Linked DNA regions of Homo sapiens: regions 2 and 3 are each linked to region 1. Evidence: fine-mapped expression QTL. A gene starts in region 1. Each other region holds a variant in brackets. All regions are shown on one strand. Distances are between the middles of the regions. Region 1 holds the start of TFR2 (transferrin receptor 2). Region 2 overlaps TFR2 (transferrin receptor 2). Region 3 has its middle 14 kb from the start of NYAP1.

Evidence for each region. PIP is the estimated chance that this variant, and not a neighbour inherited with it, causes the effect.
Region 2: its variant is the best candidate, but not a certain one, in a credible set for the expression of TFR2 in whole blood (INTERVAL, PIP 0.70).
Region 3: its variant is the best candidate, but not a certain one, in a credible set for the expression of TFR2 in prefrontal cortex (CommonMind, PIP 0.63).

The regions. Positions count from the first base shown.
Region 1 is chr7:100,639,858-100,642,530 of GRCh38, reverse strand. It overlaps TFR2 (transferrin receptor 2), which reads left to right and starts at 979. Exons shown (of 18, transcript NM_003227.4): 1 at 979-1,054; 2 at 1,303-1,555; 3 at 1,659-1,845. The coding sequence starts at 1,022.
Region 2 is chr7:100,618,674-100,621,346 of GRCh38, reverse strand. TFR2 (transferrin receptor 2) reads left to right here. Exons shown (of 18, transcript NM_003227.4): 18 at 221-927. The coding sequence ends at 490. Among named protein-coding and RNA genes, the nearest start is that of MOSPD3, 7.5 kb to the right of the region's middle. The variant G/A (reference allele first, on the strand shown) is at 1,160.
Region 3 is chr7:100,496,501-100,499,173 of GRCh38, reverse strand. No RefSeq gene overlaps it. Among named protein-coding and RNA genes, the nearest start is that of NYAP1, 14 kb to the right of the region's middle. The variant G/TTTTTTTG (reference allele first, on the strand shown) is at 1,304.

The sequences.
Region 1 (2,673 bases):
TGAGCCCTCCTCTTCAGAGCTACTTGTCTTGGGGCCCTCGGAAGGGTTTGGGGACCTGCGCCCCCTGCCTGTTTAGCAGTTTATGCCTGTGACATGTTTCTGGGGTGAGGCTAACTGGCCTTTCATCAGCCTCAGAACCCAAAGAGGTAGAAACCCATGTGATCCAAGTCCTTCGGTGACCAAACGGGCCGGTGCCCAGGGAGGACCATGACTTGTCCAGGGTCACCCAGCTCTGCCCACACCTTGGCGGGGACTCTGATCACTCCTCCCCACTGACCCACATATCCCTGACCCCAGGACCCCTATCTGGGAGCTCTCGCTGGTCTCATCTGACCATGTGCTCCCACCTGTGCCCCTCCTTCTCCAGCAGCCAGCAGGAGTCTGAGAACGACCTTTCAAAAGAGACACACATGCACACCACCAGACCAGACCCCCAAGTCACACCACTGTGGTGCCTCCAGCTTAGAATGCCACTGGGGCAAGTGTCAGGACAGGGAGGACAGCTGATATGTCACAGGACCGGGGCACTGGGGGACTCTGAAGGCCAGATGAGGAAGGGGCAGATGTCTTAGGGGTGAATCTTCCACCTGGGCATGGCGGGGCTTAGGAAGGGGTCCCCAGGATCCAGGGAGGGGTAAAAGCAGGAGAGGGGAGGGGGCACCCATGTCTCTGCCCTCCCCCACTATCGGCCCCCTTCCCCCACCCCTGATGGGAACTAGGAGGCCAAAGTCCGCCCCAAGGTCAAAAAATTGATTGTTTTGCAGGGAGGAGGCAGGCGTGGGGCTGTGGAGAGATTGGCAGGGGAGAGCACAGCCCCTTGTGCTCTGGCCTGGACCCGGGGGCCACGTCTGGAAGGCTGGACTGAGGCCAGGACTGTGCCCCCACCCTTGGGGGTGGTGAGGAGCAGCCTTGGTTCAGGCTGCCTGCCAGGACTGATAAGGGGCCCTCCTAGGGCTCCCACAAACGGTTTATCGGTTTATCGCTGGGGGACAGCCTGCAGGCTTCAGGAGGGGACACAAGCATGGAGCGGCTTTGGGGTCTATTCCAGAGAGCGGTAAGACTAGTGGGATTGGGAAGACCCCTTAGGCCTTCTCTCTAAGTCCCTCAGCCCCCTCCCAAGCCCCTGAGGCTGGCCCCTCCTGGACCGTGTCCTGACCTCGCTTCTTCCCACCCCTGCCCCTCCCCCACGCCCCCACCACCATGCTCATTTGACACCCCCAAGTCACTGACCTCATTATTGCCAGATGCCTCCCCACCCCCCAGGCCTCTTGCCCCAATCTCATGCCCACCTCGCCTGCACAGCAACAACTGTCCCCAAGATCCTCTCAGACCGTCTACCAGCGTGTGGAAGGCCCCCGGAAAGGGCACCTGGAGGAGGAAGAGGAAGACGGGGAGGAGGGGGCGGAGACATTGGCCCACTTCTGCCCCATGGAGCTGAGGGGCCCTGAGCCCCTGGGCTCTAGACCCAGGCAGCCAAACCTCATTCCCTGGGCGGCAGCAGGACGGAGGGCTGCCCCCTACCTGGTCCTGACGGCCCTGCTGATCTTCACTGGGGGTGAGAGCCGTCCCCCTCCCCAGAAGTGAAGGGCTTGGGCTGGGGGAGATTTCTGGGGTCCAGAGGTGGGCATAAAGAGAATCCCCATCTTGCCACCCGCCAGCCTTCCTACTGGGCTACGTCGCCTTCCGAGGGTCCTGCCAGGCGTGCGGAGACTCTGTGTTGGTGGTCAGTGAGGATGTCAACTATGAGCCTGACCTGGATTTCCACCAGGGCAGACTCTACTGGAGCGACCTCCAGGCCATGTTCCTGCAGTTCCTGGGGGAGGGGCGCCTGGAGGACACCATCAGGTAGGGATGGCCCTGCCCCATCCTGTTCTCGAGTGTCCCTCCCCTCATCCGCTCAGACTGGGCCTCCCTGCCTCCTGGCCCAGGCCTCTGGTGTCTGGGTCCCCCTCCTGAGTCCTCCCATCTGCCTTCCTGGCCCCCCTGTTCAGCGGTCCTGGGAAGGATGGCAGGCATTCGGAGCTGAGGTTCCAGGGGACTGAGGCTCTGAGGGTGGCATATTTGGGAGGTGAGGGAGCTGACTGTCTGAGATCAGAGGGGTGCAGCATCCAGTATCAGACTGGACAGACCCAGAAAAGCCTTGAATGCCTCACCCAGGCGCCTAGATTTGGAGCAGGGAGCGCTGAGGGGTTCTGAGAAGCCGCATTCTAGGGAATCAGAAAACCAAGCAAGCAAGCCTGGGCAATACGATGAAACCCCGTCTCTACCAAAGAAAACACAAAAATTAGCTGGGGATGATGGCGAGTGCCTGTAGTCCCAGTTACTTGGGAGCTTGACGGGGGAGGATTGCCTGAGCCGGGGAGGCGGAGGTTGCAGTGAGCCGAGATTATGCCACTGCACTCCAGCCTGGGAGACAGAGCGAGACCCTGTTTCAAAAACAAAATAACGGCAGGGTGCGGTGGCTCAGGCCTGTAATCCCAGCACTTTGGGAGGCGGAGGCGGGCAGATCACTAGGTCAGGATATCGAGACCATCTTGGCTAACACGGTGAAACCCCGTCTGTACTAAAAACACAAAATATTAGCCGGGCATGGTGGCGGGCGCCTCTAGTCCCAGCTATTCGGGAGGCTGAGGCAGGAGAATGGCTTGAACCCAGGAGGTGGAGCATGCATTG
Region 2 (2,673 bases), 21 kb after region 1:
TGAAGGCGGAGGTTGCAGTGAGCCGAGATCGTGCCACTGCACTCCAGCCTGGGAGACAGAGCGAGACTCCGTCTCAAAACAAACGAACAAACAAAAAACAAACACAAAAAGAAAACAAACAAACAAAAAAACAAAAAGACTGGCTGGCGGGAAGGGTGACTCGGGCCTTTGCTCCCGAGCCAGAGCCCCCAACCCTGACCTGATCCCCCTCTCTGCGCAGGTGGAGTTCTACTTCCTTTCCCAGTACGTGTCGCCAGCCGACTCCCCGTTCCGCCACATCTTCATGGGCCGTGGAGACCACACGCTGGGCGCCCTGCTGGACCACCTGCGGCTGCTGCGCTCCAACAGCTCCGGGACCCCCGGGGCCACCTCCTCCACTGGCTTCCAGGAGAGCCGTTTCCGGCGTCAGCTAGCCCTGCTCACCTGGACGCTGCAAGGGGCAGCCAATGCGCTTAGCGGGGATGTCTGGAACATTGATAACAACTTCTGAGGCCCTGGGGATCCTCACATCCCCGTCCCCCAGTCAAGAGCTCCTCTGCTCCTCGCTTGAATGATTCAGGGTCAGGGAGGTGGCTCAGAGTCCACCTCTCATTGCTGATCAATTTCTCATTACCCCTACACATCTCTCCACGGAGCCCAGACCCCAGCACAGATATCCACACACCCCAGCCCTGCAGTGTAGCTGACCCTAATGTGACGGTCATACTGTCGGTTAATCAGAGAGTAGCATCCCTTCAATCACAGCCCCTTCCCCTTTCTGGGGTCCTCCATACCTAGAGACCACTCTGGGAGGTTTGCTAGGCCCTGGGACCTGGCCAGCTCTGTTAGTGGGAGAGATCGCTGGCACCATAGCCTTATGGCCAACAGGTGGTCTGTGGTGAAAGGGGCGTGGAGTTTCAATATCAATAAACCACCTGATATCAATAAGCCACCTGTTGACATCTGTTATTGATAAGCGCCTTCATGCTTCTTCCTCACCCTCATGCCCATCCCATCCCATCATCCCTTCCTAGAGACCTAGGGAATTGGGCAGAAGGGACCAGAGAGGGTGCACACAGGAATGCTGTCTCCACGGGGAAAACCGAGCTGTTTCTATCACTCAAGGAAAATGCCTAAGGAAATACTGAAGGCCCCTTCTCCAAAGACCACCATAAAGCAG[G/A]TGGTCTTTGGAGAAGGGGCCTTCGGTATCTTTTTTTATTTTTGAGACGGAGTCTCACTCTGTAACCCAAGCTGGAGTGCAGTGACACAATCTCGGCCCACTGCAACCTCCACCTCCCGGGCTCAAGCGATTCTCCTGCCTCAGCCTCCTGAGTAGCTGGGACTACAGGTGTGCACCACCACGCCCGGCTAAATGTTTTCGTATTTTAGTAGAGACGGGGGTTTCACCATGTTGCCCAGGGTGGTCTTGAACTCCTGAGCTCGGGCAATCTGCCTACCTCAACCTCCCAAAGTGCTGGGATTACAGGCATGAGCCACCACACCTGGCCAGTATCTTGTCCTGGGATGAGGAATGGTTACATAATTTGCAAGACCTGCTGCAAAATGAAAATGCAGGACCCCTTGTTCAAAAGCAGAAACAAGCTGGGCACGGTGGCTCATGTCTGTAACCCCAGTGCTTTGGGAGGATGAGGCGGGAAGGTCATGTAAAGCCAGGAGTTCAAGACCAGCCTGGACAACACAGGGGAGAACCTGTCTCTACAAAAACTAAAAAACTTTAGTTGGGCATAGTGGTGTGTACTGTACTCCCAGATACTCAGGAGGCTGAGGCAAGGCAGGGATAATTTGAGCCCAGGAATTTCAGGCTGCAGTGAGTTATGATCGAGCCACTACACTCCAGTCTGGGTGACAGAATGAGACCTTGTCTCAAAAAAAAAAAAAAAAAAGGAACAAAGCTTTTTTTTGTTTTTGTTTTCTACAATTTCTCAACCTGTCATGGTATTCTTTTATTTGATATTTAATGTTGCACTCCTTTGGATATGGGGACACACTTTCAAAACATAAATTCATGCTTGAACCCGGGAGGCAGAGGTTGCAGTGAGCCGAGATCATGCCACTGCACTCCAGCCTGGGTGACAGAGCAAGACTCTGTCTCAGGGTAACAAAAATTATTAGGAATTTCAAGGTTGGCACAGTGGCTCACGCCTGTAATCCCAGTACTTTGGGAAGCCAAGGCAGGCAGATTGCTTGAGCATAGGCGTTCCGGAGCAGCCTGGGCAATATGGTGAAATCTTATCTCTACAAAAAGTAAAAAAATTGCTGGGTGCGCTGGCTCACGCCTGTAATCCCAGCACTTTGGGAGGCCGAGGCAGGTGGATCACGAGGTCGGGAGATCGAGACCATCCTGGCTAACACGGTGAAACCCCGTCTCTACTAAAAATACAAAAAATTAGGTGGGCGTGGTGGCGGGCGCCTGTAATCCCAGCTACTCGGGAGGCTAAGGCAGGAGAATGGCGTGAACCCGAGGGGCGGAGCTTGCAGTGAGCCAAGATCGCACCACTGCACTCCAGCCTGGGCAACAGAGCGAGACTCTGTCTCAAAAAAAAAAAAAAAAAAAAATTAGCCAGGTGTGGTGGCGTGCACCTGTAGTCCCACCTACTCTAGGGTGCTGAGGTGGGAGAATTGCTTGAGCTTGGGAGGCGGAGGTGGCAGTGAGCCAAGATCATGCCACTGCAC
Region 3 (2,673 bases), 140 kb after region 1:
GTATTTTGTTTAGTAGAGATGGGGTTTCACTGTGTTAGCCGGGATGGTCTTGATCTCCTGACCTTGTGATCTGCCCGCCTCAGCCTCCCAAAGTGCTGGGATTACAAGTGTGAGCCACCACGCCCGGCCCTTTTTTTTTTTTTTTTTAAGACAGGTTCTTGCTCTGTTGCCCAAGCTGGAGGGCAGTGGTGCAATCATAGCTCTCTGCAGTGTTGATTTCCTTGGGCTTAAGTGATCCTTACACCTCAGCCTCCTGAGTAGCTGGGACTACAGGCACATGCCACTATGCCTAGCCTTTTTTTTTTCTTTTAACTTTTTGTAGAGACAAGGTCTTGCTATGTTGCCCAGGCTGATCTGGAACTCCTGGGCTCAAGTCATCCTCCTGCCTGGGCCTCCCAAAGTGCTGGGATTACAGGTGTGAGCCACTGTGCTTGACCCCACAAGCCTTCCTTCTCCCTCGCTCCACGATAGCTGTTTGTCCTGAAGGTTTTCCTTTTGTATTTTTGTATTTATTTTTACTTTTATTTTTTTGAGATGGAGTCTCGCTCTGGCCCCCAGGCTGGAGTGCAGTAGCACAATCTCTGCTCACTGCAACCTCCACCTCCTGGGTTCAAGTGATTTGCCTGCCTCAGACTCCAGAGTAGCTTGGACTACAGGTACTCACCACTATGCCTGGCTAATTTTTGTATTTTTAGTGGAGACAGAGTTTCACCATGTTGGCCAGGCTGCTCTCGAACTCCTGACCTCAGGTGATCCATGCGCCTCAGCCTCCCAAAGTGGTGGGATTACTGGTGTGAGCCACCACGGCCAGCCAAGGTCTTCCCTTTTTAAGTGACTCAAAATACTTTAGTGTTATCAACTGATCCAATATAGGTTCTATAATTTCTTGTTAATGTTACTCCTATTTATTTTAAGGTTTTTATTGCTCTTATGAATGGGATATTTCCTTCCATTAATTTTCCTTTCCTTTTTTTTTTTAATTTTTTTGGAGACAGAGTTTTGCTCTGTTGCCCAGGCTGGAATGCAGCTACATGGTCTTGGCTCACTGTAACCTCCGTCTCCCAGATGCAAGTGATTCTCCTGCTTCAGCCTCCTCAATAGCTGGGACCTACAGGCACACACTACCATGCCCGGCTAATTTTTTTCATTTTCACTAGAGAGGATTTTGCCATGTTGTCCAGGCTGGTCTCGAACTCCCAAGTTCAGGCAATCCACCCACCTCGGCCTCCCAAAGTGCTAGGATTACAAGCGTGAGCCACTGCACCCAGCCCCTTCCATTAATTAACTTTTTTTTTTTTTTTTT[G/TTTTTTTG]AGACAGAGTCTTGCTCTGTCACCCAGGCTGGAGTGCAGTGGTGCGATCTCGGCTCACTGCAGCCTCTGCCTCCCGGGTTCAAGCAATTCTCCTGCCTTAGCCTTCTGAGTAGCTGGGATTACAGGTGCCCGCCACCACACCCAGCTAATTTTGTATTTTTAGTAGAGACAGGGTTTCACCATATTGGCCAGGCTGGTCTCGAACTTCTGATATCAAGTGATCTGCCCGCCTCGGCCTCCCAAAGTGCTGGGATTACAGGCATGAGCCACCTCACCCGGTCTAATTTTCTGGCTAGTTAAAAAGAGCTACTGCCTGTTTATATCTTGGGTTTTGTTTTTTGTTTTGTTTTGTTTTTTTCAAGTTGGGGTCTCACTCTGTTGCCCAGGCTGGAATGCAGTGAAGGGATCATAGCTCACTGCAGCTTCCAATTCCTGGGCTGAAGCGATCCACCCATCTCAGCCTCCTGAGTAGCTCCAGCTACAGGTGCTCACCACTACATCCAGCTAATTTTTATTAATTTTTTTTGTAGAGATGAAGTCTAGCTTTGTTGCCCAGGCTTGTCTCAAACTCCTGGCCTCAAGCGATCTTCTAACCTTGGCTTCCCAAAGTGCTGGGACTACAGGCATGAGCCACTGTGCCTGGCCTGTATTTCATCCCTAGCTCTTTTCTCTAGCCCTGCCCTCCTTGCAGAGGTCAGCTGTGTTGGGCTTGAGTGCCATTTCTATGTCAATTACTCCTAATGTCCATAGTCTTGTCCTGTCTCCTGAGCTATCATCATTTTACTTTTAACTTGTTTCCTAAATTTCAAATACTCACATACCACTGTCATAATTTTTCATATTCTGTACATTGCCTGTACTATTATTTATTGGCTTAACATTTTTTCTTTAAACCAGCTCATTAAAAATAACTCTAGACTTATCTTGTGTAATCACATTCATGAAATAACAAGTAGCCTTATGTATTGGTTATAACTTTTCTAATATAAGTGAAAATAAATACAAAACTATTACAGTTTAAAAAAAAATGCTCTTCTTCATAAAGTGTAAAAACATCTCTTGTGGCATCTACCACATTTTTTTTTTTTTGAGACGGGGTCTCACTCTGTTGCCCAGGCTAGAATGCAGTGAAGCAACCATGGCTCACTGCAGCCTTGACCTCCTGAGCTCAAGCGATCCTCCCACCTCAACCTCCTGAGTAACTGGGATTACAAACGTGTGCCACCAAGCCCAACTATTTTTTTTTATTATTGTTTGTAGAGATGGGGGGTTCTATGTTGCCCAGGCTGGTCTTGAACTCCTGGCCTCAAGTGATCCTCCTGCCTCGGGCCTCCCGAAGTGCTGGGATTACAGGCGTGAGCCACCACGTC